6 separate regions of the Homo sapiens genome follow, and regions 2, 3, 4, 5 and 6 are each linked to region 1. The links come from fine-mapping of genetic effects on gene expression. A gene starts in region 1. Each other region holds a variant in brackets. All regions are shown on one strand. Distances are between the middles of the regions. Region 1 holds the start of PARP4 (poly(ADP-ribose) polymerase family member 4). Region 2 has its middle 78 kb from the start of LINC00566. Region 3 overlaps LOC101927375 (ankyrin repeat domain-containing protein 26-like). Region 4 has its middle 28 kb from the start of LINC00566. Region 5 overlaps PARP4 (poly(ADP-ribose) polymerase family member 4). Region 6 has its middle 67 kb from the start of LINC00566.

Region 1 (5,048 bases):
TTAAGTTATTGTATTTTTTTCTTTTTCTTTTCTTCTTCTTTTTTTTTTTTTTGAGACAAGATATTGCTCTGTCACCCAGGCTGGAGTGCAGGAGTGTGATCTTAGCTCACTGCAGCCATGAACTTCTTGGCTCAAGTGATCCTCCTGCCTTAGCCTCCTGAGTAGCTAGGGCCACAGGCATGCACCACCATGCCCGGTTAATTTTGTAATTTTTTTGTAGAGAGGGGATCTCCCTATGTTGCCAAGGCAAACTCTTGGTCTCAAGCGATCCTCCCGCCTTGGCCTCCCAAGACACTAGGATTACAGGCATGAACCACCATGCCTGGTCCTATTGTACTTTTTAACTACACAATTTCTTTTTGGTTCTTTTCAGTTCCAAAATGTGTTTGGTTCCTTTTATAATTTCTATCTCTTTATTAATATTCCTTATTTGTTTTTTAAATAATTTCAACTTTTATTTTAGATTCAGAGGGTACATGTGCAGGCTTGTTACCTACATATAATTCGTGGTGCTGAGGTTTGGGGTATGACTGAGCCCCTCACCCGGGGACTGAGCATAGTACCCAATAGTTTTTCAACCCTTGCCCCTCCCCCTCCCTCCCTGTCTAGTTGTCCCCAGTGTCTATTGTTGCCATCTTTATATCCATGAGTACCCAGTGTTTAGCTCCCACTTACAAATTAGAACATGTGGTATTTGGTTTTCTGTTCCTTCATTAATTCACTTACGACAATGGCCTCCAGTTGCAGTCACGTTGCTGTGAAGGACATGATTCCATTCATTCTTTTTATGGCTTCGTAGTATTCCATGGTGCAAATGTACCACATTTTCTTTATCCAGTCCATTGTCGATGAGCACCTAAGTTCATTCCATGTCTTTCCTATTGTGAAGCGTGCTGTGACGAACATACTAGTGCATGTGTCTTTTTGGTAGAATGAGTTCTCTTGTTTTGAATATGTACCCAGTAATGGGATAGCTGGGTTGAATAGCAGTTCTGTTTTCAGCACTTTGAGAAATCTTCAAACTGGTTTCCACAGTGGTTCAACTAATTTACATTCCCACTGACAGTGTATAAGCATTTCCTTTTCAATAAAGCCTTGCCAGCATCTGTTGTTCCTTGACTTTTTAATAATAACCATTCTGACTGGTGTAAGATGGTATCTCATTGCAGTTTTAATTTGCACTTTTCTGATAATTAGTTATGCTGGGCTTTTTTTCATGCTTGTTGACCATTTGCACATCTTCTATTGCATATTCTCTATTTATTGAGACTTTGTTCTCCTGGTTGTTTCTTTCAGTTATTTTTCTATGTTTCCTTTCACTTTTTGTCCATGTTTAAGACAGTTTATTTGAAGTATTTGTCTAATAATTCCTATGTCTGTGCTTCCTCAGCTCAGGGACAATTTCTGTTCATTTCTTTTTTCCTTTGAATTGGCCATTTTTTCGCCTTTTTTTTTGCATGCCTCATAATTTTTTGTTGAAGATTGGACATTTTGAGCATTACGATGTGGTAACTCTAGGAATCAGTCTCTCTCCTCCCCCAGAATCTCTTGTTGTTTCTTAGACAACCCTATAGAGTAGGTTGTAATGATGAAACTTGGTAAATTACCTTGTCCCCAGCCCCCTTGGTAATAAATTGTGGAGTCAGGATTCAACCCCATACCCTTTCCACTGTATTCTCTACTCTATCCTTTCTATTCTCATTTTATTCAGTATCCTAAAAATCTGAATCTTCCCCATTGCTTTATTCCCATTTCAGTGAATCTCAGATCTGTATCTCCAGCCCCCTGCCTCTCTTGAATGGCAGATAAATATATTTCCAACTAGTTACACTGTCACGAATTTCAAACGCAGGAAGGCTTAAAGTAAATTTATTATCTCACTCTCCTGTTTCCACGAACTTTCCCGAAATTTTCTTCTTTCCCGGCCTTGTGAATCCCTTCCATTTCTCAGTTAAAGGACAGCACCATCCACCCACCTCTCTCAAAGCCGAGCTTTGTATTAATCCTCATTGACAAAATCCCTCCTGAAATATGAAACTGAAAGCCCTGAACCCTCCGGCTGATCTTGGAAGAGAAACCCCGCCAGAGGCCGGGGACCCGCTCCCCACCTGGCGGACCCGATTCCGGGCGCGTTCCGGCTATCGTCCCTGCTTGGGACGCTGCGCCCGCCTGGTGCGGGGCGGGGTTCCGGCGCAGTGGCGCCCGCCCAGCCCCGGGGGCAGGGAGAGCCTAGATTACGGAAGTACCGCGAGCAAGGAGCGCGGAATCGGGGAGCGTCCGGAGCTAGCTGGATCCTCTAGGCAGGTGCGTGGGCGCTGCGGGGTGGGGGGCTGCAAAGGTCCCTGTAGTCCTAGCCAGGAAGTGGCCCGCGTACTACTTTCCCGCCAGTGGCTGCACCCTTGCCCTGCGCGGCGTTGGCGCTGTGGGCCTGACGGCGCTGCTAGGCTCGGGAGTGGACTAGCTAGTGCAGCCAGCGCCCTCGGGGAGGGATATTGCGGTCGTTCCGCTCTGCCCCGCGGCGCAGCCCTGGTGACGAGAAACCGGGTGCGGTGGGGGGCGCCCACCGGAGCCGACAGTCACACCAAGTCTCCGCACCCCGTGCGGTGCGGTTCGCAGTAGCACGCGTTGTTTCTTGTTTCCAGTATGCCAAACGGCCTTCTTTCCTAAAGTTAGGTTTCGAATTGTGCAAAAAGTAAGGTGGTTTGGTGAGTAATCAGGAAGTACTATCTGACCTCGTGAGTCATTGGGAACACCGTGATAGAAACAATGTGTTTGTTGAGGTCCAAAGTTGAAAACCTCTAACTCAGTTAAGTAATTCCTGCTAGGAGGGCCGAATGGTTCACCCAGGGATCGAGTTGGTAGATCACAGGTTCTAGAAAACTAAGGCGCTGCTAAATATTCAAGCCCAAGCACTTTCAATTCTGGACTGCTGGATGACAACAATTATATGACAATATCCAAGCATAGTGCTATGATAAAGGGGAAGTTCGCTCTGAGATGTGCGTGTTGCAGACTCATTACATCTGACTTTATCATTTATTAAGTAAACATTAGGTCTTGTTTGTGTGCGTAGAGCTACTGTATATCATGTAGGAGTGAAATAAAAGTAGTACCTTTGTTGTTTAAGGGTTTAATAAACCCATTAGGGAGGTGCATTACTGATGCCATTTGAGTCCAAAATGCAAATAGTGTCAGAAGGCTTTTCTGTAATCCTGGGCTTTAATGGATACGTGAGAGTTTTTAGTAAGCAAGCTTTTATTGAATGCCCACTGTATATCAAAAGTGATCTTAGCGTGTGCTGACTCACACACTTCGGAAGGCGGAGGCTGTAGAATCAAGACTGCCCAGAAAGGGACTCCTCAGGGTTTTCCGAGAGGAGGAAATGCCAGTGGTAAAGACGAAGACCTGTGAAGCAGGAAGCCACTTGATTCCACCTACACCAATGGTTTATGGAGCAGCCAAGAGTTTGTGAGGAGGCGCGCTGAGGGTTTCTTAGGAATCGGGGCTGTTCCCTGCTGTCTTTGGGTGGAAGACACTCTGTGAATGTTATTTGGGGAAGAAGCTGGGAAGGGGGACAGGCTGGAGTGACTGTGCAGATTTGCCTTAGAGAATAACCAGCCCCTAGCCCAGTGTCCGCCACATCTCATATGTACGTAATCAGCGCTGATGAAAACATGAACTAACTCTGTGTTTAGAGAACACTTTGAAACAAGGAAGAACTAGTGGCGCATGTCGGTTAGGCGCTGTTAACCCAGAAGAGGGCTGGCATTTTACAGAGACTAGAGATGAATCTGTGGAAAGAGAGAAGTCAAGACCTGACTTGAGATTTCACGAAACCCAAAGTGCGCCTTTCCATACCTCCCACGCAGCCGCAGGTGCTAAGAACAGACCGCAGATTTATGTTTAAAATGTTTTTACTCTGGGCCGGGCGTGGCAGCTCACACCTGTAACCCCAGCACTCTGGGAGGCTGAGGCAGGAGGATGGCTTGAGCCCAGGAGTTTGTGACCAGCCTTGGCAACATAGTAAGAACCCTGTCTCTACCAAAATTAGCTGGGCATGGTGGTGCAGGCCTGTGGTCCCAGCTACTAAGTAGGCCGGGTGAAAGGATTGCTGGGAGGGAGGTCGAGGTTGCAGTGAGCTGTGACAGTGACCACACCACTGCACTCCAGCTTGGGAGACAGAGCCAGACCCTGTCTCAAATAAAATAAAATGTTTATACTTTGATTTCACAACTATGTGTATGTACTTAATGCCACTGAACTGTACACACAGTTTTAAAAACTGTACCACAATTTTTAAAAGGCTAAAAAATGTTTATACTCCTTGATTCAGTAATTCCATTTCTGGCCATCAACTCTAGGGAAACTATGACAGAGATGTGGCAAAAAAATATATGTACAAGCATTTTAATTAAAGTGTATTTCTAATAGTGAACACTTTTTTTTTTTTTTTTTTGAGACGGAGTCTCGCTCTGTCGCCCAGGCTGGAGTGCAGTGGCGGGATCTCCGCTCACTGCAAGCTCCGCCTCCCGGGTTCACGCCATTCCCCTGCCTCAGCCTCCCAAGTAGCTGGGACTACAGGCACCCGCCACTACGCCCGGCTAATTTTTTGTATTTTTAGTAGAGACGGGGTTTCACCGTTTTAGCCGGGATGGCCTCGATCTCCTGACCTCGTGATCCGCCCGCCTCGGCCTCCCAAAATGCTGGGATTACAGGTGTGAGCCACCGCGCCCGGCCAATAGTGAACACTTTTAAGTAACCAAGTATCTGATGACTTGGGGAAGGATGAAATAAACGCAAAGCTTATGTAACCACTAAAAACACCTTCAAAGAATATTTAGTGACATGGGGAGGATATCACTAAAAGCTAAATAAGCTGTGAAAGTGAAAGTCCTATTTAAAAAGTAAAGAGCAACTGGCTATAACATTAAATATAGAATATTAATAATTTAGAAAATACAATGATACAAGAAATAATAACACCAAAAAAATTAAAATATCAACAGTGGGGGCTAGGTGTGGTGGCTCATGCCTGTAATCCTAGCACT
Region 2 (5,048 bases), 100 kb after region 1:
TTTTCCCCCATTTTAACCCCACCAATGTCAACTTCTTTGTATCATTACACTACAAAAATTCCAGTATAATTTTTGAAATAGCATCTCTGTTGGCTCACTTAATCTAAAAGGTTCTCACAAAGTTTAAGAACAACCTTAAATATTACTGGAACAAAAACAGACATCTAGACCAATGGAACAGAATAGAAAGCCCAGAATAAGTCCATGCATTTATACTCAGCTGAGTACAAAGGTGCCAAGAATCCAAGATGGGGAAAGGACAGTCTCTTCAATAAACAGTACTGGGGAAACTGAATATCCACTTGCGGAAGAATGAAATTGCAACCTATCTCACCCAATATACAAAAGTCTACTCAAAGTAAACGCTTAACTGTGAAAGCTGAAATAGGAAAACTACTAGAAGAAAACATAGGTGAAAATCTTCTTGACATTGGTCTGGGCCAAGGTATTTTTGGATATGACTGAAAAGCATAGGCAACAAAAGAAAAAGCAGACAAATGATACTTTATCAAACTAAAACACTTTTGCACAGCAAAGGAAACATTTATAGAGTGAGGAGACAACCTACAGAATGGGAGAAAATATCTACAAAGCATACATTCAACAATAGGTTAATAGATTATTTTTAAAAAGGAAATCAAACAACACAATAGCAAGAGAACAAGTTACTTCTCTGGAAAATGGGCCAAGAACCTGAAAAGATATTTCCCAACAGAAGACATACAAATGGCCAAGAGGTATATGAGAAAATGCTAAACTTCGTTAATCATCAGGGAAAAGCAAATTAAAACCACAAAGAGATATCCTCACACCTGTTAGGATGGTCACTAACAAAAAGACAAGAGAAGAGTTGGTGAGGATGAAGAGAAAAGGGATCCCCCTTGTACACTGTTGGTGTGAATGTAAATTAGTAGTTATTGTGGAAAACAGCACTGAGATTCCTCAAAAAACCAAAAATAGAACTACCATATGATTTGGAGAGTCCACTTCTGGGTATATATCCAAAGGAAATGAAATCTGCACTCCCGTGTTCACTGCAGCATTATTCATAATACCCAAGCTATGGAGTCAATCTAAATGTCATCAGTGGATGAATGGATAAAGAATATGTGCTATCTATAAATAAAGGCATACAATTCAGCCTTAGAGGATATCCTGTCACGTGATAATATGGATGAACCTGGAGAATATTATGCTAAGTGAAATAAGCCAGGCATAGAAAGAAAAATACTGCATGACTCACTTATTTGTGGAATTTTAAAAAATCATATTCATAGAAGCAGAGAGTAGAATGGTGGTTACCGGGGGCTGGGGGGACTGTGGAGATGTTGGTTTTTACTTTATTATTTTTTTAGATGGAGTTTTGTTCTTGTTGCTCAGGCTGGAGTGCAATGGTGCGATCTCGGCTCACTGCAACCTCTGCCTCCCAGGTTCAAGCGATTCCTCTGCCTCAGCCTCCTGAGTAGCTGGGATAACAGGTGCATGCCACCACACCCGGCTAATTTTTTGTATTTTTAGTAGAGATAGGACCTCACCATGCTGGCCAGGCTGGTCTCAAACTACTGACCTCAGGTGATCCACCTGCCTCTGCCTCCCAAAGTGCTGGGATTACAGGTGTGAGCCACTGCGCTCAGGCTGAGATGTTGGTTAAAGGATGCAAAATTTCAGTTAGACAGGAAGAATAAGTTCAGGAAATTTATTGTACAACATAGTGACCATAGTTAATGTATACTTGAAAATTGCTGAGACAGTAGATTTTAAATGTTCTAACCACAAAAAAGTATGTGGAGTAATGCATACGTTAATTAGCTTGATATAGCCATTTCACAGTGTTTATGTATATCAAAACATCATATTGTACACCATAAATATATTTTTATGTGTTAATTTTAAAATAAAAAATCAGCCTTAAATAAAATAAAAGTACTCTGACATTCTAAAATTAAAGACTGTTTGTATTTTGAGAGATATAAACTGGCAAACCAAAAATAAAGAAAGCCAAATACTAGGAAAACAAGGGAAAATATGCTCAACCTTCCTTAGTTCTTTTTTCCTACTTTCTTCCCTTCCTTATCCTCTCCCTATCTCCCACCCTTCCTCCTCTCCTCTTTCCTTTCTCCTTCCCTTCTTTCCACCTTGGAGCTAATATTTTAAAATGATAACAGTTATTAATACGTATTAATAGCAATACGTATCTTGTTCTTGTACTTTATATTTACATGTATTTAGAAAGGGAGAAATGAAAAGGAAAATGTTATTACCTTTGCCTCCTTTACAGTGAATCGCTACGATGTTTTCAAGATCTTGAGCCATCCACTCATTTACTTCCTTGGTGAAAACCACCATCTCACTGATTTCAAGTTTAAGATTTTTAGTTAAAATATCTTCAAAAAATCAAGCCCAATATATTTAGCCCTCTTCTGATAGCCAGCTTAGCATAAAACTTACTGTAGAGTGGGGACATTATGATCATCAATCATGAGTCTACCAACGCTATTATGGAAGTGCTTAGGATCATAAGCTCTTTCACCTAAAATAAATAATATGTATGTCCTATCTCTACAGGGAATAACATGATAAATGATGAAGTTACGAATAAGTTAACATATCTTATTAGAATTCCTCATCTATCTTCAAAAAGAGCTTTCCAAGTTGCTCCTGCTCTCTAAAGTAAATGCAAGGTCTCAAAAACATAAAGATGGTAGTGGTTTATCCATCTCATGTAATCTAACCTCAACTTATTTTTGTTTAATAGGTATAATTTTTAACTTTCTAGCAGACTATTCATTATATTATTGCAGGGTAGTTAGAAACCACACAAGAGGCAAATGTAGCTGACCAAAATCATTGCCCCCTGAAAATGTCTACTGAGTATACAGGTAGAGGTAAAAATCAAGAGAGACAGAGTATTAAGCTGGGTAACAACCTATTTTCTACAGAGTTTTTTGCCTTTTTCCCATCTAGAGCCCTGCTCTCATCACATGCCACTGCTGATGGGTCAGAAGACTCATTTGTTAAATTGTCTATGTCCTCATAACACAATCTGGCAGGAAAAACAGAAAGATTTTCCTAAACCTAATATGGGTAGAACAGATCTTCCCTAAAATGGTTTGCTTCCACCCCAGCATCAC[T/C]GGTACTGCCAAAGCCACATCCTTCATACGGTACTTTGTGCTGCTGGGCTAACTCTTTCTAGTAAACGGGGCCAGTCCAAGATAGGGATTTTTAAATTCATTCCTTGCCACCACCAAATACTTATGATTAAATGCAATCTAAAAAACAAAATCATCTTCTTACATGCAGTAATCTGTTTTCTATCTACAGTAGCAAAATATAGAGTAACGTACACACTGCATAGATTGTAGACTTGATAGTGGTTTGGATGCTTCTCGTCTAGAAAGTGCACAACTTCCTAAAAAAGAAAAACACATATCTTACCTATTTACATGACACCAACACAAGCTATTTCCTAGGGGGAACCTAAAATGGTTATTACTTTCATTAATTTGTCTCTCACTAGCATCTTCTAGGGGAGATTCGGGGAATAACAGGGTATGCAAATTTCAAGTTCTAATCCACTGTGATTTTTCAAATAGTCCACAATGTGTGTTTGGCTACACAGTTGAGTCTCTATTGTAAATACACACTGTTTAAAGCTATCACATAAGTAAATTAGCTGGTTAACTAACTTTAAGTAAATTTGTTCTAAATCATTAATTCACAGTTAATGTGGTTCTTGTTTAAATCTAATTCATATTGGTTCTTATTTAAATTTAATTTTGAATGGATACAACTTTAGAGAGTGATCTGCATATTACAGTCTACGTAAGCACTATGTAAACAAATAAATGCAAAAAGTATATAGTATGATTGTGTGTATGCGTGATAGAAAAAGATAAACATAACAAATTTTAAATAACTGGTAACAATATGGAGACTTTTTTGGCTCATCGGTTCTCTTATTTTTTTAAATGAAGATATACATGTACCTATAAGTGTGTGTGTATATATATATATATGTACGTATAACCCTTAAAATGAAAAACAAATAGTATTTATTATTTAAAATACAGTTAATACCACTATATGAATCCAACTTTCAGTAAATACATCTTTCTGAAACATACACACACATATGTATATATGTCTGTGCAACAACAAAAATGACACGAAATTTTAAAACTGATTAGTATGGTACCCTCAGAGCAATGTTTACCGGCTTAATATTGAGAAAAATAAAATGAACATATCAAAATCATCCATTTATTAAACTGGCTATCTCTGTTAGGAAGAAATAATAAGTCAAAAAGATGAACACTCTGAATCTGCATAGTGGGGGAGGCAAGGATAAACAGTTTTATATACTTCAGAATTCATGGAATTTCTTACATAAAATCCATACGGGCTTAGAAATCACATATAAAAACTATAAATATCTATGAGAAATTTAAGCAAATTTTAATCAATTCTTTGGCTGAGGAAGAACTAAAAGTGTTGAATCAATGGAAGATCAATAGGCTTAGGTCTGACTTCATAAAAATCTGAAATTTCTGCTTTAAAATGCTATAATGAATAACAGGGGAAACGATTTTTCAGAAAAATTGACTAAATGGGGACTATGCCGAGTATGATAAATTAATAATTCATTAACAACAACTTAAATATTACTCACTCACCTTATAGATAAATGGGCCAAGGACATAAACAATCCGTAAAAGAGAAAATCTAACTGATCAACAACCTACACAGATAAATATTCAGTGTCACCAATAACGAATTCAAAACAACAATAACGTGCCATTTGCACCCATGAAATTAGCCCTTTCTCTTTTAATGAGAAAATCCAATGTCGGCAAAATAAGGCATGAAATTTAAAACTTTGATTTATTGTTGATACAAGAATACAGTTGCTCTTGGATTTGGCAATATATATTAAGAACACTAAAAATATTCATACTCTTTAACTAGGTAATTTCACTTCTAGCAATCTATTACAGTTAAAAAGCCTTATGCTCAAAGATGTCTGTTGCTGTATTACTGATTATACTGAC
Region 3 (5,048 bases), 48 kb before region 1:
CCTGCACACACACACACACACACACACACACACACACTAATCAAAACATCCAATTTGCTTCAGATAATCAGTCTAACACTAGGATGAAGTAATTAAACTTTATACAAAATTGACATGTTAGCAAGGAAAGCTTTCCTCTAGGTAAAGATCAGAATTCCAACAAGCATTTCAAACACGGGAAAAAATTGTAGTCTCATAATTCACTTCTGTGAAACCCGAATGAGTATAGGTATTCCCAACTGAGAACTTCAGCGTAGCAATACGTAATACAAGATACATCTAAGTTAGAGCTTACATTTTTAAAATCTATCTTATGCTTCTAAATATAATGTTTTTCAAACATAGATACCAATGCTAATATCTGCATTATATATATCAAATCTATCCCTCAAATTTGAAAAAAAAAAAGACAGGAATACGAAGACTGCTAGCATTTAAACTATTTTTAATGTGCTTCTTTCCAGAGTTAAATTTGTATTGCAAAAATTTTTACCTGATGTGCATGCTTGTACATCTTTCATTCCGACTGCCTGGTTCGAAACACACTCTTTCATTTCAACCTTAGGCTGAAAGGGTTTTAAGACAAAATGATTAATAAGTAATATATATTTCATATACTATGTGGTTAATAATTAAAGATAAATATAGAAAAGTTATTACCTTCAAGTGATGATATTGCTGAAGAGAATCTGGAAGGCAAAAGGGACATATAATCAATTATATATAAATATGATAAATCTAACCATACACTCAGAGTTAGTATCAAGCTGAATCTTAGTGCTTCGTTTTAAAAATAATGAGTTTAGATTTAGGGGTGCATTTTTTTGTCAGGACAACAACATGACAGAAATATCCTGAAGAAAACTAAGAAGATAGGTTGAATAAAACATGCAGTTAACATTTCAAAGGCAAGATTCTGATTCGAATATCTGTAACTGAGAGAAAAGTATGCACGCAACCATGTGTACATGCTGAGGAGGAGAAAAATGATCTTTAACCAGAGGAGCAAATCATGACCCTGGGCAGATAAATGTCAAAGCTGATGGTAGAATGCTATAGTGTGTCTTTAATGTGACACATCAGAATCATTTATACCATTCTACTACAAGTACCTACTATGTCCTTCAATTGGTCCTAGAATGTAGGAAGCACACAGTTGTCATGACAGTTCATTTGAATGTTTAATTCATTTCTCATCAGAGAAAGTGTTCGGATCCACACTTTCACAAGTGTGAATTGCTTTGGATCCACACTTACACAAAATAGTTCATAAAAATCTTCATTTTTTTCATACCTACTTGAGCTTACTGATAGGCCTACATTTCTTATATCCCGTAGTTTAGCCATCTTAAATTTTTTGATCCACTCATGCAAGAAGGTATATAAAACATGTCTAAAAATAATGTCTAAGAAGCTTTCAACATTGAAATATTAATAAAAAATGCATTGCTACACAATTATTAGTTACTACTGAGCTTTTATATACCAAAATGGGTGTAATATTTATGTAAAGTAATGCCTTTTGTATTTGAGGAATAAACTTTGTAATTTTTTTTGTTTCCAAACTTAGTTTGGGTTGGCATATCATGTCATCCATGATAAACTTTTACAAAACAGGCATCCTATTTAAAAAACCGGCTACCTTAAAGAAAAAGCAGCCAAAGCTCCTACATTTAACTTTACCTCAGTTGATTAACTCATATTGAGAGGTGACAGCGTGCTGGCAGTCGTCACAGCCCTCGCTTGCTCTCGGCGCCTCCTCTGCCTGGGTTCCCACTTTGGCGGCACTTGAGGAGCCCTTCGGCCCGCCGCTGCACTGTGGGAGCCCCCTTCTGGGCTGGCCAAGGCCAGAGCCGGCTCCCTCAGCTTGCAGGGAGGTGTGGAGGGAGATGCGCTAGCAGGAACCGGGGCTGCGCGCGGCGCTTGTGGGCCAGCTGGAGTTCTGGGTGGGCGTGGGCTTGGCGGGCCCCGCACTCAGAGCGGCGGGCGGGCCCTACCGGCCCCAGGCAGTGAGGGGCTTAGCACCTGGGCCAGCGGCTGTGGAGGGTGTACTGGGTCCCCCAGCAGTGCCAGCCCACTGGCGCTGCGCTCGATTTCTCGCAGGGCCTTAGCTGCCTTCCCACGGGGCAGGCCTCTGGACTGCAGCCCGCCCTGCCTGGGCCTTCCCCCGCCTCCATGGGTTCCTGTGCAGCCCGAGCCTCTCCGACGAATGCTGCCCCCTGCTCCACGGCGCCCAGTCCCATCCACCGCCCAAGGGCTGAGGAGTGCCAGCGCATGGCGCGGGACTGGCAGGCAGCTCCACCTGCAGCCCTGGTGCAGGATCCACTGGGTGAAGCCAGTTGGGCTCTTGAGTCTGGTGGGGACATGGAGAGTCTTTATATCCAGCTAAGGGATTGTAAACACACCAATCAGCACTCTGTGTCTAGCTCAGGGTTTGTGAGTGCACCAATCGACACTCTGTATCTAGCTACTCTGGTGGGGCCTTGGAGAATCTTTACGTCTAG[C/T]TCAGGGATTGTAAATACACCAGTCGGCACTCTGTATCTAGCTCAAGGTTTGTAAACACACCAATCAGCACCCTGTGTTTAGCTCAAGGTTTGTGAATGCACCAATCGACACTCTGTATCTAGCTGCTCTGGTGGGGCCTTGGAGAACCTGTGTGTTGAAACTCTCTATCTAACTAATCTGATGGGGAGGTGGAGAACCTTTGTATCTAGCTCAGGGATTGTAAAAGCACCAATCAGCGCCCTGTCAAAACAGGCCACTCAGCTCTACCAATCAGCAGGATGTGGGTGGGGCCAGATAAGAGAATAAAAGCAGGCTGCCCCAGCCAGCAGTGGCAATCCGCTCGGGTCCCCTTCCACACTGTGGAGGCTTTGTTCTTTCACTCTCTGCAATAAATCTTGCTACTGCTCACTCTTTGGGTCCACACTGTTTTTATGAGCTGTAACACTCACCACGAAGACCTGCAGCTTCACTCCTGAAACCAGTGAGACCACAAGCCCACCGAGAGGAACGAACAACTCCAGATGTGCTGCCTTAAGAGCTGTAACACTCACCGCGAAGGTCTGCAGCTTCACTCCTGAGCCAGCGAGACCACGAACCCACCAGAAGGAAGAAACTCCGAACACATCCGAACATCAGAAGGAACAAACTCCAGACATGCCACCTTAAGAGCTGTAGCACTCACCGCGAGGGTCCGTGGCTTCATTCTTGAAGTCAGTGAGACCAAGAACCCACCAATTCCGGACACAATATCAACAAAACATGCATCTTTGATGTCTGATAGTTACAGAGAGAAGAAATTAGTTCCTGTGGTTTACCCCCATTCTAGCACTCCCTCCTTCCAGTAATTCCTGGAACAGCAATCACCTAATCTTCTGTTTGAGTGCCAATATATTGCAGTCACTAGAAGTGACAGCTCTCAAGTTTCCCTATTATCAACTCCAAAATTAACTAGCCAACTTCTTTCTTTCCTCCCTCCTCCTCCACTCACAATCCCTCTTCCTTTGCAAAAGTAGTCTCTAGATCTGTTGTCCTGATTCTGACCTTTCTGCCGCCTTTTGATGGACTATTCCCATGACTTCTCTTCTCTTCATTTAGCAGTAGTATCTTCCAATGATGATTTCTGTTTCTTCATCTCTTTCTCCTTCCCCTCTGGCCAGAGACACGCTCAGAAATAAAGGGAAAATCATGCTTTCCCTTGATCCTGTTATGTCTTGAGTGGTGATCCAAGGGCTCTTCTTCGAGATTTCTCTGAAGGCACAGCTATACCCTTGCTACTGAGAGTGTGGTCCTAGGACAAGAAGGGTCGGCATCACCTGAGATCTTATTAGAAATACAGAATCGCAGACTTGTGGAATCAGAATCTGCACTTCCAACAAGGTCCTCAGCTGATTTGTTAAAATTTGGGAAGCTCTGGTCTATACTGAGTGTGCTCCCACATTAGTTAACCTCAACCTGCCCTTTTGGAATCCAGCCTCAAGCTCCACCCTATCACGTCCTCCAAATCTAAGCTGCATTACAAGTCGTAAAGTTACTAATGAACTTTTTATCAGGCTATAGCTTCCTTGATCTTTCCATAATTAATCCTACCCTCTTCTTTCCAATGCTCTTCTTTTGGCCCCTAAGATACTGTCCCATGAAGTAACAAGATTTTATAGCACATTAAATTATAGACATGTAATTTATGCACGGCTGACCATACATTACATTCCTCTATCGCAGATGAAACATAGCTCTGTGTGGTCAGGTACCTCCATCCTTAATGCATTCCCAAAAGTAAGGAAAACAGCAAGAGTGGCAACATTTTGCTTGAATTCTCTGACAAGTTTCGGTACTGGAAGCTCACTTTATATTCTCCTCAAATAATTATCTTACTCTATCGCCCTTCATTGCATATATCTTTTTCCCTCATTTACTCCCTGTACTCTCCGCCTTTTCACTCTTCATTCCTTCATTTACTCTTTTCTTCTTCCTTATTTTCTGACTTTCCTCAGGTCTTACAGTATCTTGAATTGGAACTAATGATTCAGCTCCTTTAGTGGCACTCTCAATTAAATTGGTTGCTAATGCCTTACAAAATATACAACATATCACTATTTCACTTCTCTTTTTTTGACTATGCACTTAATACCTTATTTTCCTTGGCTACTAGAACATAACAGAGCTCATGTTTTTAAACATTCTGTCAAATTTTTAAATAAAATACAGTTCTTACCTTCTTGTTCCTTTATTGTAATTTTTCCTCTTTGACCATCATCAGCTCCAGTTAAGTGACTATCATATTTCTGTGGAACATTCTCAAAGGTAGTCTGTTGAAATTATAATGAATAATGAGTTTCAGTGAAAAAACAATGAATTTCTCAATATTTCCTAAACATGTTCTGAATTTCCTGATTTAAAAGCAATGAGACCTAGAAGTAAGGAAAGCATGTATTGAAAACCAAAATATTTCAACAGAGAAACTCATATATGTTCTCCAGATCAAGCAAATATTTTATCTCCATATGGCTATTGACTCTGTAAACTGAACATAGAAAGCCAAAGGA
Region 4 (5,048 bases), 150 kb after region 1:
CCCTGCTGCCCCAGCCTGGGAGCTCCAGGACAGGTCCCGCCTCACCCCGTGCCTGGGTCTTGGGGAGAGTTTGCTGAGGGCATCCATGCCCAGGGCCCTTGGGGGCAGGACCAGGATTTGCACCCCCCACCCCAGGTGCCTCAGTCTGAAGGGGCCTCCTGGCAAATGAGCTCACCCATCCCTGGGGCAGAGGGCCCCACTTCCTGGGGTGTAAAGTCACCTCCTCGTTGCCCCGGATGCTTCCATGGTAACAGATTCTTCTGCAGTAGAGTGGTGGGGCACCCCTTCCCTGACCATCTGCCTCCCAGCAAGCTGGTGGAGGGGCTCACTCCCATCCACGTGCCTCCCGTGGGCTCCCGCCTTCCTCTGGGCACCCTGGGTGCACCAAGGTGTTTTAGAAGGAGCTGCACCGGCTTGGAGGCAAGAAGGGCAGGAAGCGGCTGTGGAGGTGCCCAGCAGGAAGGGCTTGTGTCTTAAGGTCCTGGGTATTTAGAAATGTTTTACACAGGCTCTCTTTTTGATTTTATGTAAAGGGAGTTTTCACAGCTACGCACATTTATTCCAATGTTCCACTGGGGAGAGCTTTCCCAGAACCCCGGGGCTCCCAGCCCCCATGGCTCTTGAGGTGGCTCCAGTATGCAGTGGATGCTTCCAGGGTGCCCCAGGGTCCCTTGGGGGCTCTGTGGAGCTTCTGTTTCTGAGGGTGGAGGCCTGTGTTCATGTGAGGGTGGAGGACTGTGTTCACCTGAGGGTGGAGACCTGTGCTGAGGGTGGAGACCTGTGCTCATCTGAGGGTGGAGGCCTGTGTTCGTCTGAAGGTGGAGACCTGTGTTTGTCTGAGGGTAGAGCCCTGTGTTCATCTGAGGGTGGAGACCTGTGTTTGTCTGAGGGTGGAGACCTGTGTTCATTCTCCTTAAAGGCCTGCCTTCTGGTGCTGCCCTGCTATTTGTGGCTGTTTCCAGAGGCAAGCTGGAAGTGCGGTGCAGCTGGGGCTGTGGAAAGCACTCCCTGCTGTGCCCTGGGGGTCTCTATGGGAACACAGAGACTGGAGCTGGAGGGGCTGGGGGTCCAGGGAAAGTTGAAATAAAGGCTGCCTGCACCAGGGCCTTCCCCAGCACCTGTCACTGAGGCTGCTGAATGAACCGGGCAGGGATGGCCTGCAGGCCTGTGGTCCTGATGACTTAGTTTTCGCCCTGATCCTGCTATCTGGGGGCTGAGGTTCTGCCTGGACGGCTGCCCCAGAGGAGACTGGGCAAACCCCTGGCTCCTGGGGTGGTCTCCTGCAGCCTGTCAGCAAGATCCCCTCTGCCCTCAGCAGGGATGCTGGGTGCCCTAGGGAGGCCTCAGCAGCCTGTTTCATAGCTGAGGACGCTGAGACCTGGAGCACAGGGATGCCCACCTGAGGCCCCACAGTTGGGGAGAAGCAGGCGTGAGGGTGGGGCCCTCTGGGTCAGATGCTGTCTGCCTGGCGGTATGGCTGTTGGAGTAGGGGGAGCTGGTTCGGGGAGGGGTCCGGGAGCCATTCCACTGGGGTAGTTGCAATGCCCAGAGCTAAGCTCTTGGTACTGGCTCTGTTCCATGCCCTGGGCAGGCATCGCCTCCTTCCATCCTCAAACCCTCTCCAAGGTACTCAGTATCTTATCCCTGTTCTGTTGATAGGGAAACTGAGTCAGGGTCGCCATCACTGGGCTGGCCAGATGAGCTTGGGTCCAGGCCCAGGCAGCCCTGCTTTGTGGGTATGAAAGGCCTGGTCCCCACTGCCAGGCCAGCACCCAGCTATGGGTGGTGACCAGGCCCGGGGCCTCAACGTGCACACACACGAGCTGGGTTCCTAGCGGCCGCTTGACTTCACAGGATTGCTGAGAAAATCAAACAGGTTAATGAATGACAGTTGGTTGGACCCAAGTAAGGAGTTGTTAGTAAGTTCCTTTCTGGTATTTAACCAAAGCATTTGTTTGCAGCCCTGGGACTGTTTTCAAGAGGAAAAAGTCCCCGCAAAGCAGCAAGCAGAGTCTCTTTAATGTCCCTTCTTAAATTAAAAAAAAAAACGGTAGAAGTCAGGAGTAAAATTGCCTCTCATGAAGACACCACGGAGAACCGATGTAATTTCCATAATGCAGGACAACAATGAGCGCACAGCCTCATGGGAGAATAAATCCAGCCACTTTAAGGGAAGAAGGGAGGCGCTAAGTATATCACATCAAAAACTAACTTATGAACTTCAAATCTATGCACCAATTCAAAATCTGATTTAACAAACTGCTCTTACTAAAGTCAATTGGTAAGCATTCCATTATAAAAACAAATGAAATCTTCCCCGTCTATGAGATAAATAATTTTCTCCCCACACCTAAGCGGGAGGCATTAGCTTAACGAGTAACCATCTAAATTATGTATTAAACTCAATTACTTTGTATTACTGCTTTCCAGTTAGGGTTCCCTGATTGACTCACGTGGCATGGAGACTCCTCCCGGGCAGTCCCCGATCCTCCTGGCCCCTGGATCTGGCTCTGCAGATGCCATT[C/T]ACCCCCAGCTTGAGTGTGTCTCTCCCTCGCTCTAAGAGAGTGAGGTGTGGCTTCTGATGGAGAGTGAACACGGACGGCGGCATGATCACCAGCTAAATCACCATCTCAATCTGCCAGAGGCACTCCTGGCGGCCACTTCTGAGGCTGCAGTATCTCCCGGCCCTCTAGAGAGAGCTCCCGAAATCACCAGCATCGCCAGGGCAGCTCTGCTGAGCCTGTGGCCTCTGCAGGTGCAACCAGTGTGTTGCTGCTACCATGAGTGTCTTCCTGTCCTCAGAGGTGCCAATCCCCCAGCTCCTGCCCTGTGCTGGCCATGCCTCAGCCAACACTGCACCACGGTGAACTCCCCTATGTAATCAAGAGCTTTCCTTTTAAGTATCCAGACTCTCTGAGAAGGGCTGTGTTCCTGGGCATATTTCTCAAACAGCAGGGACACACTCCTTTTAAAATGAAAAAACGTGTAGATTCCCAAGTGCAAAAATGCTACTTGTGAGGGGTCACTGCGCAGTGATCGCAGAGGCCAGCTTGCCCTGCAGAGCCCGCCGTGGCCTTTATGGAAGCCGAGGAGCTGTGGGAACCCCATTCCCCGGAGTCGCCGTGCACCGTGAGCTGCTCTGAGCAACACGGCGGGAGCTGGAGGATGGGGCCAGAAGGGGCTCGATGGTGAAAGCACACCGGGAGGGAGAAATGACTGGGCAGCCTGCTGCAGGTGGCAGACACCTGGGAACACGTAGCACAGGTGGGTGGGGAAACTAGGAGCACCGGTCAGGGGTCTGGGTGAGAAAGTAGCTCTGAAACGGCGACGTGAGGGAGGCGAGGGGTCGGTCATTCTGAGATTAGAGGAAGGAGTCCCAGCAGGGCAAGCCACCAGGGCAAAGGCTCTAAGCCCCCATCTCAGGGTGGGGGTGGCAGCAGGTGGGGACAGACACCTTCAGGCTGGGCTTCAAGAGAGGCCTCAGAGCTGGCACCAGAGGCCCCCTCTGTCCCCTTCTCTGACTGCAGGAAGAATAAAAGCCTGGAAAGAGGGCCTGGCCGAGTTACACAGAGGAGCCCCCTCAGCCAAAAAGAGCCAGGGGAGCCAGAAGCTGGAGAGCTGCTCAGGAGTTGGGGACGCTACAGGCAAGGTCCCTGCTTATTCCTGAGTCTTGGCTTGGAAGCCTCGAACTTTCATGTCCACCCAGGCTTCTCTGAGCGACCCTAACAGGGACCAAAGGCCCAGCAGCCCACACATCACCCTTGATTGGCACGAGGTGGGGATGGGGCCCCCCAGGGCCCTGGGAAAGGGGGCTGGACTTGAGCTGCCAGGTAGGGGCCCCCTGTGGGGCTTGGGGTGGGTGGGGCAGGGGTGGAGCTGGCTGGGCCTCACAGGCCCGGGAGCCAAGGAGACAGCTTCAGTGCCTTCCCTGGGGATCCCCAGACCAGGCACTCCGAGAAGCCGGCTCTGCACCATGACAGCCACTGCTGCCACACCACCTAGGTCCCAGAATGAACCCTGCCAGCCCACCCCAGAGACCGAGAGACAGGTAGGTGAGCCGCAGAAGGGACCCAAGGGCACTGAGACAGAGGCTTAAAAGGCCAAATCTAGCTTTAAGTCATGGAATCAAGCAGCCGACCATCCCGGTACCCGGCCACAATGGCATCCAGAGAGCGGCCCCCCAGCAGTGTCATTCGGGCCCCGTCCGGTTCCTGTTCAGGGCCTGGAAGGCCTCCGTGATTTAGCTGCACAAGCCTGGGGCTGTGGCACTGTCGGAGGACCTGCCTGGCCTCTTCATGCCGACGAGGTTCTCATGTAACCGGCAGCATAACCCGCAGGGCCAGATTGACCTTCTCACCTAACCTGAGAGGGAGAAGAACCAAGGGGCTCTCAGGAATAAGGCATTCTTCTGGGCAATCGGGAGTGCAGGGGGCTGAGCTGGGATTCCAATTCTGCATCACAGTGGGCTCCAGGTTCCGCAGCAGTTTCAGGGGCGACATTACCGAGGTCCTCGTGGGCGGGAGAGGGAAGTGTGATGGGGCACGTCAAGGACGAGGTGCCAGCTGGCCACTGAAGGATGGTGGGGCTCCATTCAGCAGAGGTGGGGGCTGTGATGGGGGTGGATGGGTGTGTGAGGTGATTGGATTTGTGTGTGTGGTGTGTGTGATGAGTGTGTGCGGTGCATGGTGTCTGTGTGATGGCCCGATTTGTGTGTGTGGTGTGTGTGATGAGTGTGTGTGGTGCATGGTGTCTGTGTGATGGCCCAGTGTGTGTGGCCGTGTGTGCAGGTGTATGTGTGATGAGTTTGTGTGTGTGGTGTGTGTGTGCCTGTGATGGTTGAGTGTATATATGGTGTGGTGCGTGTGGTGTCTGGCAGGTGTGCATGTGTGTGTGTGATGAGTGTGTGTGGGTTGCTTGTGATGAGTGTGTATGATGAGCGTATGTGTGGTATGTGTGACGTGTGTGATGATCATGTGTGATGAATGTGTTTGCGATGAGTGTGTGATGAGTGTGCACGGTGTGAGTGTGATTAATGTGCATGATGAGCG
Region 5 (5,048 bases), 88 kb after region 1:
AAAAAAAAAAAAAAAAGAAGCTTGGATTTTTAAAATGAAAATGGGTTGTTAATTGAGTTCAACACATGTAAACATTCATTTTTCAATTTTGATATTTCATAATATAGTAAAATATCTTGGATACCTATAGGTACTAACCACTAGAAATAATTTGATACACCAGTGTAATTAGTCATATCTGTTGTTTATCTGTTGAATATTTAGGTTTACTCTTCTAAGCTATTTGTAACAGGAGCCTAAAAACTGGATTTCTTTTAGTGAACTTCATGGCTCTTTGGTTATTGAAGATGGCAAGTGAGGGGCACTCTGGATACAGTTCAGTTTCCTGACAATGATCAGGATAATATCATAGGCACACGGGTCTAACTGTCCTCATTTTTTATTTAAACAGCAAACCATTTAAGGACCTTGAAGAGTATTAGAGTTTCACGATCTGCTCATGTACTGTGATTTAACCGTATTATAATTCTTTTTTTTTTTTTTTTTTTTTTTTTTGAGACAGAGTCTCACTCTGTCGCCCAGGCTGGAGTGCAGTGGAGTGATCTCGGCTCACTGCAAGCTCCGCCTCCCGGGTTCACGCCGTTCTCCTGCCTCAGCCTCCCGAGTAGCTGGGACTACAGGTGCCTGCCACCCCCGGCTAATTTTTTGTATTTTTTTTTTTAGCAGAGATGGAGTTTCATTGTGTTAGCCAGATGGCGTATTGTAATTCTTTAATGAGAATTTTATAAACAGGCACAGTTTGAGATGCAGAGTTTCCAACAGACTTAACGGAGTTTTTTTCCTTTTAGGTGTAAAAGGAAGAGAATGTCTCCTGGACCTAATTGCCACAATGCTGGTACTACAGTTTATTCGCACCAGGTTGGAAAAAGAGGGAATAGTGTTCAAATCACTGATGAAAATGGATGACGCTTCTATTTCCAGGTGGCTTTAACTATAGTATTATGCAACTTATTTATATTTTCAACTATTTATTTAATAAACCTTAGAAACAGCTATAGGGAATTATCTTACATGTGTACACTATAAGTATGTAGCAAGAGAATTTGTTTGCAGGTGACAGCTTGCCCATAGTCTCCTGTGGCGGGCAGGGCTGATGTATTTGTGCCTTGGGCTGCACAGGAAATGGGCTCAAAGAGTTTCAGTGCAGCTCCCGCTGGAGGCTGGCGCTTCTGGGCTCTGGATGTGGTACTCTTCACTGCAGTCTGCTGATCCTGGGTGCCTCCAGAAGACCCACAATGTGACTGTTGGGCCCAGCCCTGTTCCCAACAATGGCAGGGCCTGGGACAAGAATACAATACAAGTATTTAAAGTTTATAACTTTGTAGTTTATAACAAGTGTTTAAAGGTTATAAATCAAACTAGCAAACTATTAGATTAAATGTGTTCTAATCTCCTCCCTTGGCAAATACAACTTCATAACCACCTGGAAGGCCAGGTTCAAATTCGGCCCTTGGTTGACCCCCAGCACCCTAAGAGGGTTTGCCTGCAAACGTGAATACCCCACCCCACCCATCAAAATGCCATCCAGACCCCATGCCAGTGCCCCCTCACACCAGCCACCTTGTAGCACCAGTGAGATGGCAACACTGTTCAAACTCAGGATGACAGACCAGGGAAGACCCTGGAAGTGGACTCAGGGCCATGTGGTCAGGGATGCTGGAGTTGCAGGGTCTAAAAAGGAGGATATGGGCTCTGGGGTGGGCATATTCTCTTGTCCCTACAGACCCCCCACCCCATGGCAAGAGGGTCAAGACCAGAGTAGGATCCCTCTGAGATATATAGATATAGATATAGATATAGATATAGATATAGATATACACACACACACACACACACACACACATGCACACATGCATACACATATACACATATACATACACATGTAATTGGCTTATGTTCTTTTAAAGGCAAGATAAGGGGAAAACTAATCAAACTAATAATATTATTGCTACGGGGATTTGATAGAGGGGACAAAGATAGAAGCTAGGTTTCTCCTAGTGTGCTTTGTTTTGCAGTTTTGACTTTGGAACTGTGTAAATATTTTACATAATAATGCATAAGATTGATATTTATTTATTTATTTATTGAGACAAAGTCTGGCTCTATCGCCCAGGCTGGAGTGCAGTGGTGCAATCTCAGCTCACTGCAACCTCCGCCTCCTGGGCTCAAGCCATCCTCCCACCTCAGCCTCCTGAGTAACTGGGACTACAGGTGTGCACCACCACGCCCTGCTAATTTTGGTATTTTTGTAAAGAAGGGGCTTTGCCATGTTACCCAGGCAGGTCTGGAACTCCTGAACTCAAGCAATCCTCCCGCGTCAGCCTCCTGAAGTGCTGGGATTACAGACATGAACCACTGTGCCCATCCTGGGAATTAATTTAAGGTGAATTTAAAACATAGTACTGGCCGGGCGCGGTGGCTCACGCCTGTAATCCCAGCACTTTGGGAGGCCGAGGTGGGCAGATCACGAGGTTGGGAGATCGAGACCATCTTGGCTAACATG[G/A]TGAAACCCTGTCTCTACTAAAAAAAATACAAAAAAAAAAAAAAATTCGCCAGGTGTGATGGCGGGTGCCTGTAGTCCCAGGTACTGGGGAGGCTGAGGCAGGAGAATGGCGTGAACCTGGGAGGCAGAGCTTGCAGTGAGTCAAGATCGTGCCACTGCACTCCAGCCTGGGTGACAGAGTGAGACTCCGTCTCAAAAAAAAAAAAAAAAGTACATAATTTGACTATATCTCTCTAGTGGGATAGTACCTAAGGATTAAAAAATATTACAAAGAAATCTCACTGGGAGTAGTCATGGTGTTAATAATACTTTTGATTTGTTATTTTGGAAGGTAGATATTAATATTGTTAGAAACTAATATGTATAAAATCAAAGAAGTTAAACAAAACCCCTTGATTTCTAAACTTGAATTAGATCAGAGAATAGAGGAACATGTTACTTGACACCATGGAAATGCAGTCAGCGAAGTCTGGAATGTGGGGAAATAAATGGCAAGAGAAAAATAAATGGCAATAGAAAAAAAAGGTTGAGGAGCAGAACCTGTAAATAAACCTTTAGAGACATATCAACCAAAAGCAAGGGTAGACCTTGTTTAGGTCCTGATACAAACAAAACCCACTGCATTTAAAAAAATGAGATAGGAAAAATTAAACACTACCTGGATATTTTATGATATTAAAGAAATATTGATAATTATTTTTTAAGTGTCATGATTAAGAAAAAGTTCTCAAACACAAAACAGGTGTTCAGGAAGTTCTGGGCTAGGCAAATTGGCTCATGCCTATAATCCAAGCACTTTAGGAGGCTGAGACGGGAGGGTCACTTGAGCCCACCAAGATCAAGCCCAGAAGTTTAAGACCAGCCTAGGTAACCAATGAGACTGCCATCTCTACAAAAAACTTTTTGTAATTACCCAGGCATTGCTGGGCACGGTGGCTCACACCTGTAATCCCAGCACTTTGGGAGGCCAAGGCAGGAGGATTGCATCCAGGAGTTCAAGACCAGCCTTGACCACATAGCAAGACCCTGTCTCCACAAAAAAATTTAAAATTACCCGAGTGTGGTAGTGTGTGACTACTCAGGAAGCTGAGGTCGGGGGGATTGCTTGAGCCCAGGAGGTTGAGGCTGCAGTGAGTTGTGATCGTGCCACTGCACTCCAGCCTGGGCAACAAAGCGAGACCCTGTCTGAAAAAAAAAGAAAATCATAATTTACTATATGTAATTTATACTTCCATTTTTTAAAAAGCAATACCTTCTCATTAGTTTGCCAAGAAAGATGAGAATTTATTTTGTTTTTCTATTTTGGGAGTTTTCTTTTTTTTTGTTTTGTTTTTATTTATTTATTTATTTTTTGAGGCCAGATCTCGTTCTGTCACCCAGGCTGGCGTGCAGTGGCACGATCTCGGCTCACTGCAACCTCCACCTCCCAGTTTCAAGCAATTCTCGTGCCTCAGCCTCCTGAGTAGCTGGAATTAGAGGTGTGCACAGCTAATTTTTATATTTGTGGTAGAGATGAGGTTTCGCCATGTTGGCCAGGCTGGTCTCGAACTCTGGCCTCAAGTGATCTGCCTGCATTGGCCTCTCAAAGTTCTGGGATTACAGGAGTGAGCCACTACACTAGCCTATTTTTTGTATTTTATTTTAAAATAAACCAGTGCCACTTGCCAAGAGGATTAATTAAATAAATATCAAAGAAAAAACACTTTGAACAGCTAGGAGGTGGGACTAAAAAATTAGTATTGACTTAATAGGCACATCCAAAGACGCATTTATTCTATTTAGATCATTGCCAATTATTAATATTATAGCTGTTAAAACAAGTATAAACTTTGAACCTGCTTTTGAACTGTAATATCATAAAGTAAAGATTTTCAAAATTGATCAAGTATATTCCAGCATATTGCTCTTACTCCATTACTGCTACTGTGCTAGCAAAATGGTTTGTTGGCACTTGAGTACATAAGACAAACAATTTTAGGCCAGACACGGTGACTCACAGCTGTAATTCCAGCACTTTGGGAGGTTGAGGCGGACAGATCACAAGGTTAAGAGATTGAGACCATCCTGGCCAAGATGGTGAAACCCCGTCTCTACTAAAAATACAAAAACTAGCTGGGTGTGGTGGCACGTGTCTGTAATCCCAGCTACACAGGAGGCTGAGGCAGGAGAATCACTTGAACCAAGGAGTCAGAGGTTGCAGTGAACCGAGATCGTGTCCCTGCACTCCAGCCTGGCGACACAGTGAGACTCCATCTAAAAAAAAAAATTAAATATTTTTTATTTCCTGTTTATTGCATATTTGAAACTTTGTTCTATATTTTCTATTTCAGGATGTACATAACATTGATGCAAGAGCACATTATATGGGGGTGTAGGCACAAGATTTTCTTGCTAGCGGAATGTGAACCAAAAAGTGTAGAGGCCAATCAGTAAAAATATTCAAAGCCAGTTTTGTTGTTTTCAGCAGTTAGTAACTATCAGTAGATGAATATTTACTAGGAAACATTGGTCTTTTAACCACTTTGGGCATGCTTCTTATTTAGTA
Region 6 (5,048 bases), 110 kb after region 1:
AAGTCTGCCCTTTCTGCCTTCTTCTTAATGCTGGAAAAGATCATTTTTGTTCCAGGAATGTACTTCCTGGGATTCTCAAAATACTTCATCAGTGTATCCTCTCCCCAGGTGATGCCTTTGTTCTTATCGGTGTCTATGTAAGATAATCCAATGGCCTGACCTATCTTCCACCTGAAGAGACCATGGAGATTAGGCCCAGTCTTGTGCTTGCCTCCATTTTCCATGGTGTGGCACTGGGCACACTTCTGAACAAAAATCTTCTTGCCTTTCTCAACATCTCTCTTTCTCAACATCTCAATATCTCTCAAATTCTCTCTTTCGTCACTGGCACTACAAATGTTCTCGCTCAGAAGCCACACGTCCTGCTCTATGTTCCACATTTTCTTTATCCAATCTATCATTGACTGGCATTTAGGTTGATTCCATGTCTTTGCTATTGTGAATACTGTTGCAATGAACATACGTGTGCATGCATGTATTTTTATAAGACAATGATTTATATTCCTTTGGGTATATACCCCATAATGGGATTGCTGGGTCTGATGGTATTTCTGCCTCTAAGTCTTTGAGGAATTGCCACACTGTCTTCCACATGGGTTGAACTAATTTACACACCCACCAACAGTGTAAAAGCATTCCTTTTTCTCCACAATGTTCCCAGCATCTGTTGTTTTTTGGCTTTTTAATAATAGTCATTCTGACTGGCATGAGATGGTATCTCATTGTGATTTTGTTTGCATTTCTTTAATGATCAGTGATGTTGAGCTTTTTTTTCATATTTTTGTTGACTGCATGCATGTCTCTTTTGGGAAGTGTTGTTCAGATCCTTTGCCCACTTTTTAATGGGGTTGTTTTTTTCTTGTAAATTTAAGTTCCTCATAGACTCTGAATGAGGTATTACCAGTGAAGGCTGAAAAACAGCAAAGATGGCAGCCAGCTCCTTCCTTTGGAAGCTCCATCCCAGGGGGATACTGACCTGTAGCCAGCCCACACATACCTGCAGGAGGTGGCTGGAGACCCCTGTTGGGCATTCTCACCCTGTCAGGAGGCATGGGATCAGGGACCCATCCAAAGAAGCAGTCTGGCTGCTTTGGGGTAGAGCAGGTGTGCTGCATTGTGGGGGATCCTTCCTCCTCCGGACCACCTGTATTCTCCAAAGCCAGCAGGTTGGAGTGGCTGAGTTGACCAAACTGCAGAGATGGCAGCTGCCCCTCCCGCCAGGAGCTCCATTTCAGGGAGAGATCAAAGCTCTGTCCATAGAACCGTTGCTGGAGTGGTTAAAGCCCCCACAGGGATTCCTGCCCAGTGAGGAGGAATGGATGGGGGTCCTGCTTAAAGAAGCAGTCTGGTCATGATCTGGCAAGCCAGCTGTGCTGTGTTGTGGGGAACTCTTCCTTGTCCAGACTGTCTGTATTCTCCATAGCTGGCAGGCTGGAGTGGCTGAGTCTATGAACCACAGTGGTGCCGGCTGCCTCTCCCCACCTCCCCGGGAACTCAGACCCATCTGAGGTGGATTCCAACCCGCTGCTGTTGGCAGGCTAGGATTCCAAGTCAGTGGGTCTTAACTTGTGAGGTGCTATGGAAATGGGGCCTGCAGAATGACGCTGCCTGGCTTCCTGGATTCGGCCCCCTTCCCAGAGATGCGTACGGACAGATTTCCTACTGTGCTGAAGATCCCGGAGGCTAGAGTGTGTAAAACTCCTGGGTTTCTGTGTGTGCCTGAGCTGATGTGCCCAGACTCCATACAGGTCTGTGTATCAGACCCACGGCCCTGGTGGCATGGGCTCACAAGGAATCTCCTGATCCATGGCTTGCAAAGATCCATGGGAGAAGCACGGTTTCCCGGGCAGGACTGCACACTCACTCACTGCTTCCCTTGGCTGGGAGTGGGGGTTCCTTTGGCTCCACGCCACCCCTGGCTGGGCCATCGCACCCTCTGCCTGCTTGTCTTCATTCTCCATTGGTCGACCTGTTCATCTAGTCAGTCCTAATGTGAGAACCTGGTTGTCTCAGTTGAAGGTGCTGAATTCCCTCGCCCCTTTTCATTCCTCTTTGTGAGCGCGGCAGACTGCAGCTGCTTCTAATTGGCCATCTTGCATCACTCTAAACATTTCTTTTCTAGCCTTAGTTCTTAATTCCTATAGTCCCTCGTTTA[T/C]CACCAGTTTCTTGATAAAATAATCTGTCCACGTTCTCCAGTCATGGGATGATGACTCAGGCAGGGGATCCAGGACATTATCTGGGAAGTAGCTGAACTTGCAGCCCTGTCCTGTCCGGAACTGAGTTAACACACTGCAGAGAGGTACTCCTTCCACCTCTCGGCAACTGATGCCAGCCCTCAATAATTACATTTTTATTGAGGTATAATAAGTATTGTAAATTACATAAAATTAAACAATGATCCTTTCAGCTGGCACTTCACAGTAAACAGCATTATATGTTTGAAATTAATTTAGTCATCCACAGAGCCTAAAGCCATATGCCCTGACTATAATTTAGGATCTCAACCTAAGAATACACATTTTGGGTTATAGCATCCCCATCTTTCCTCCCTATGGTAGACTATCAAAAACCGCCACAATTCTTTATAGTTCCTTCCATCAAGAGTTGGAGTTTATTTTCTACTCCTTGAATCCAGACTGGTAGTGTAATTTGCATTGTCCAATAAAATGGGGTAGAAGTAATATATAATTTTGAGCCTGGGCCGGAAGAGGATTTGCATTGTTTTGTTGCCGCTCCTGGGACTCTTGCCTCTGCCGTCACGTGAACAGGCCTGAAGTAGCCTACTGGAGAATGAGAGACCACATGGGGCCATTCAGCCAAGTCAGGTAATTTTCTTTCCTTTCATTTAAAAAATCGGTTTCCTTCATTCTTTAAAAATATTTTTAACTGACACATAATACTTGTTCATATTTATGAGGTACACAGGGATATCTCAATACTTGCATACAATGTGTAATGATCAAATCAGGATAGTCAGCATATCTGTCACCTCAAATATTTATCATTCTTTGTGTTGGGAACACTCAACATCCTCTCTATGTAAAAATATACAATAAATTATTGTTAACTGTAGTCACCCTACAGCACTATAGAACACCAGAACTTATTCCTATCAGTAAGCTTAACTCTGTTATTTCTTTGTTGATTTTCTGTCTAGATGATCTGTCCAGTGGTAAGAGTGGGGTGTTAAAGGCCCCAACTGTTGCTGCATTGGAGTCTATCTTTCCCTTTAGACCTAATAATATTTGCTTTGTTTATCTGAGTGCTCTAGTGTTAGGTACATATATATTTACAATTATTATATCTTATTGCTAAGTTGATCCCTCTATCATTACAAAATGACCTTCTTTGTCTCTTCATACAGTTTGACTTAAAGTCTGTTTTATCTGATGTAAGTATGGCTACCTCTGTTCTCTTTTGATTTCTGTTTGCCAGGAATATTTTCTTCTATCCCTTCACTTTCAGTCTGTATGAACCTTTACAGTTGAAGTGAGTTTCTTGTAGGCAGTATACAGTGGGACTTTTTTTTTTTTTTAATCTTGGCAGCCAACTCTATATCTTTTAATTGGGAATTTGATCTGTTTACATTATATTCAAGGTTACTATTAATAGATGAGGCTTTATCCTGTCATTTTGTTCATTTTTTTTCTGGTTGTTTTATATATCCTTTGTTCTTTTCTTCTTCTATTTTTTTTTAATCTTTGTGGTTTGGTCATTTTCTGTAGTGATAAAGTTTGATTCCTTTCTCTTTCTCATGTGTATATCTGCGCTAGCAGTGAGTTTTATACTTTTGTATGTTTTCACAATAGTAATCATCCTCTTGCTTCCAGAAGTAGAACCACCTTAAGCAGTCCTTGTAAGGCCAGTCTAGTGGTAATGAATTCCTTCAGTTTTTGCTTGTCTGGGAAATACGTTATTTCTCCCTCATTTCTAGGGATAGCTCTGCTGGGTATAGTATTCTTGGTTGACAGTTTTTTTTTTTTTCCTTTCAGTACTTTGAATATATCATCCCATCTCATTGTCTACTGACCTGTAAAGTTTCCACTGGGAAATCCACCGTTAATCAAATGGAGTTTCCCTTATATGTGACTTGATGCTTTTTTCTTGCTGTTTTTAATATTTCCTTTTTTTTTTTTTTTGGATACAGTCTCAATCTGTCACCAGGCTGTAGTGCAGTGGTGTGATCTTGGCTCACTGCAACCTCCACCTCCTGGGTTTAAGCAATTCTCGTGATTCAGCCTCCCAAGTAGCTGGAACTACAGGTGCATGCCACCACACCCAACTAATTTTTTTGTATTGTTAGTAGAAATGTGGTTTCTTCATGTTGGCCATGCTCATCTTGAACTCCTGGCCTCAAGTGATCCACCCGCCTCAGCCTCCTGAAGTGCTGGGATTACAGATGTGAGCCACCTCACCTGACGAATATTCCCTCTTTTTGACTTTTGACAGTTTGACTATCATGCACCTCAGAGAAGACCTTTTTGGGTTGAATCTATTTGAGAACCTTTGAGCTTCCTAGATTTTGGTCATATCTCCCAAGTCTGTTTTTAAATCTCTTGATTGTATTTTTCTTTTTTTTTTTTTTTTTTTTTGAGACAGGGTCTCACTCTGCCACCCAAGCTGGAGTGCAGTGGCACAGTCTTGGCTCACTGCAACCTCCACCACCTGGGTTCAAGCAATTCTTGTGTCTCAGACTCCCAAGTAGCTTGGATTACAGGCATGCGCCACCAAACCCAACTAATTTTTGTATTTTTTAGAGACAGGACTTTGCCATTTTCATCAGGCTTTTCTTGAACTCCTGGCCTCAAGTGATCCACTGCCTTGGCCTCCCAAAGTGCTGGGATAACAGGTATGAGCCACTGCACCTGGACTCTTCATTGTGTTTTTTATTTTATTCCTTAAATTCTTCAGCTCCAAGATGTCTGTCTGGTTTTTAATGACATATATATCCTGTTGAATTTCCCATAAGATCATAAATTGTTTTTCTAATTTCATTGATTTGTCTATCTGTATTCTCTCGTATCTCATAGAGTTTCCTTAAGATCATT

What was found. PIP is the estimated chance that this variant, and not a neighbour inherited with it, causes the effect.
Region 2: its variant is the best candidate, but not a certain one, in a credible set for the expression of PARP4 in whole blood (INTERVAL, PIP 0.90).
Region 3: its variant is the best candidate, but not a certain one, in a credible set for the expression of PARP4 in whole blood (INTERVAL, PIP 0.84).
Region 4: its variant is the best candidate, but not a certain one, in a credible set for the expression of PARP4 in neutrophils (BLUEPRINT, PIP 0.61).
Region 5: its variant is the best candidate, but not a certain one, in a credible set for the expression of PARP4 in monocytes after interferon gamma (Fairfax 2014, PIP 0.62).
Region 6: its variant is the best candidate, but not a certain one, in a credible set for the expression of PARP4 in lung (TOPMed, PIP 0.65).

The regions. Positions count from the first base shown.
Region 1 is chr13:24,509,962-24,515,009 of GRCh38, reverse strand. It overlaps PARP4 (poly(ADP-ribose) polymerase family member 4), which reads left to right and starts at 2,232. Exons shown (of 34, transcript NM_006437.4): 1 at 2,232-2,304. All of the region lies in intron 1 of LOC105370117 (a long non-coding RNA gene), which reads right to left. RefSeq lists a silencer at 2,075-2,234.
Region 2 is chr13:24,406,518-24,411,565 of GRCh38, reverse strand. No RefSeq gene overlaps it. Among named protein-coding and RNA genes, the nearest start is that of LINC00566, 78 kb to the right of the region's middle. The variant T/C (reference allele first, on the strand shown) is at 3,132.
Region 3 is chr13:24,557,926-24,562,973 of GRCh38, reverse strand. It overlaps LOC101927375 (ankyrin repeat domain-containing protein 26-like), which reads right to left. Exons shown (of 11, transcript XM_011535334.3): 4 at 4,718-4,811; 5 at 661-689; 6 at 494-566. Among named protein-coding and RNA genes, the nearest start is that of PARP4, 48 kb to the right of the region's middle. The variant C/T (reference allele first, on the strand shown) is at 2,505.
Region 4 is chr13:24,357,096-24,362,143 of GRCh38, reverse strand. No RefSeq gene overlaps it. Among named protein-coding and RNA genes, the nearest start is that of LINC00566, 28 kb to the right of the region's middle. The variant C/T (reference allele first, on the strand shown) is at 2,525.
Region 5 is chr13:24,422,339-24,427,386 of GRCh38, reverse strand. PARP4 (poly(ADP-ribose) polymerase family member 4) reads left to right here. Exons shown (of 34, transcript NM_006437.4): 33 at 789-921. Among named protein-coding and RNA genes, the nearest start is that of PARP4, 88 kb to the left of the region's middle. The variant G/A (reference allele first, on the strand shown) is at 2,504.
Region 6 is chr13:24,395,948-24,400,995 of GRCh38, reverse strand. It overlaps the pseudogene CYCSP33. Among named protein-coding and RNA genes, the nearest start is that of LINC00566, 67 kb to the right of the region's middle. The variant T/C (reference allele first, on the strand shown) is at 2,156.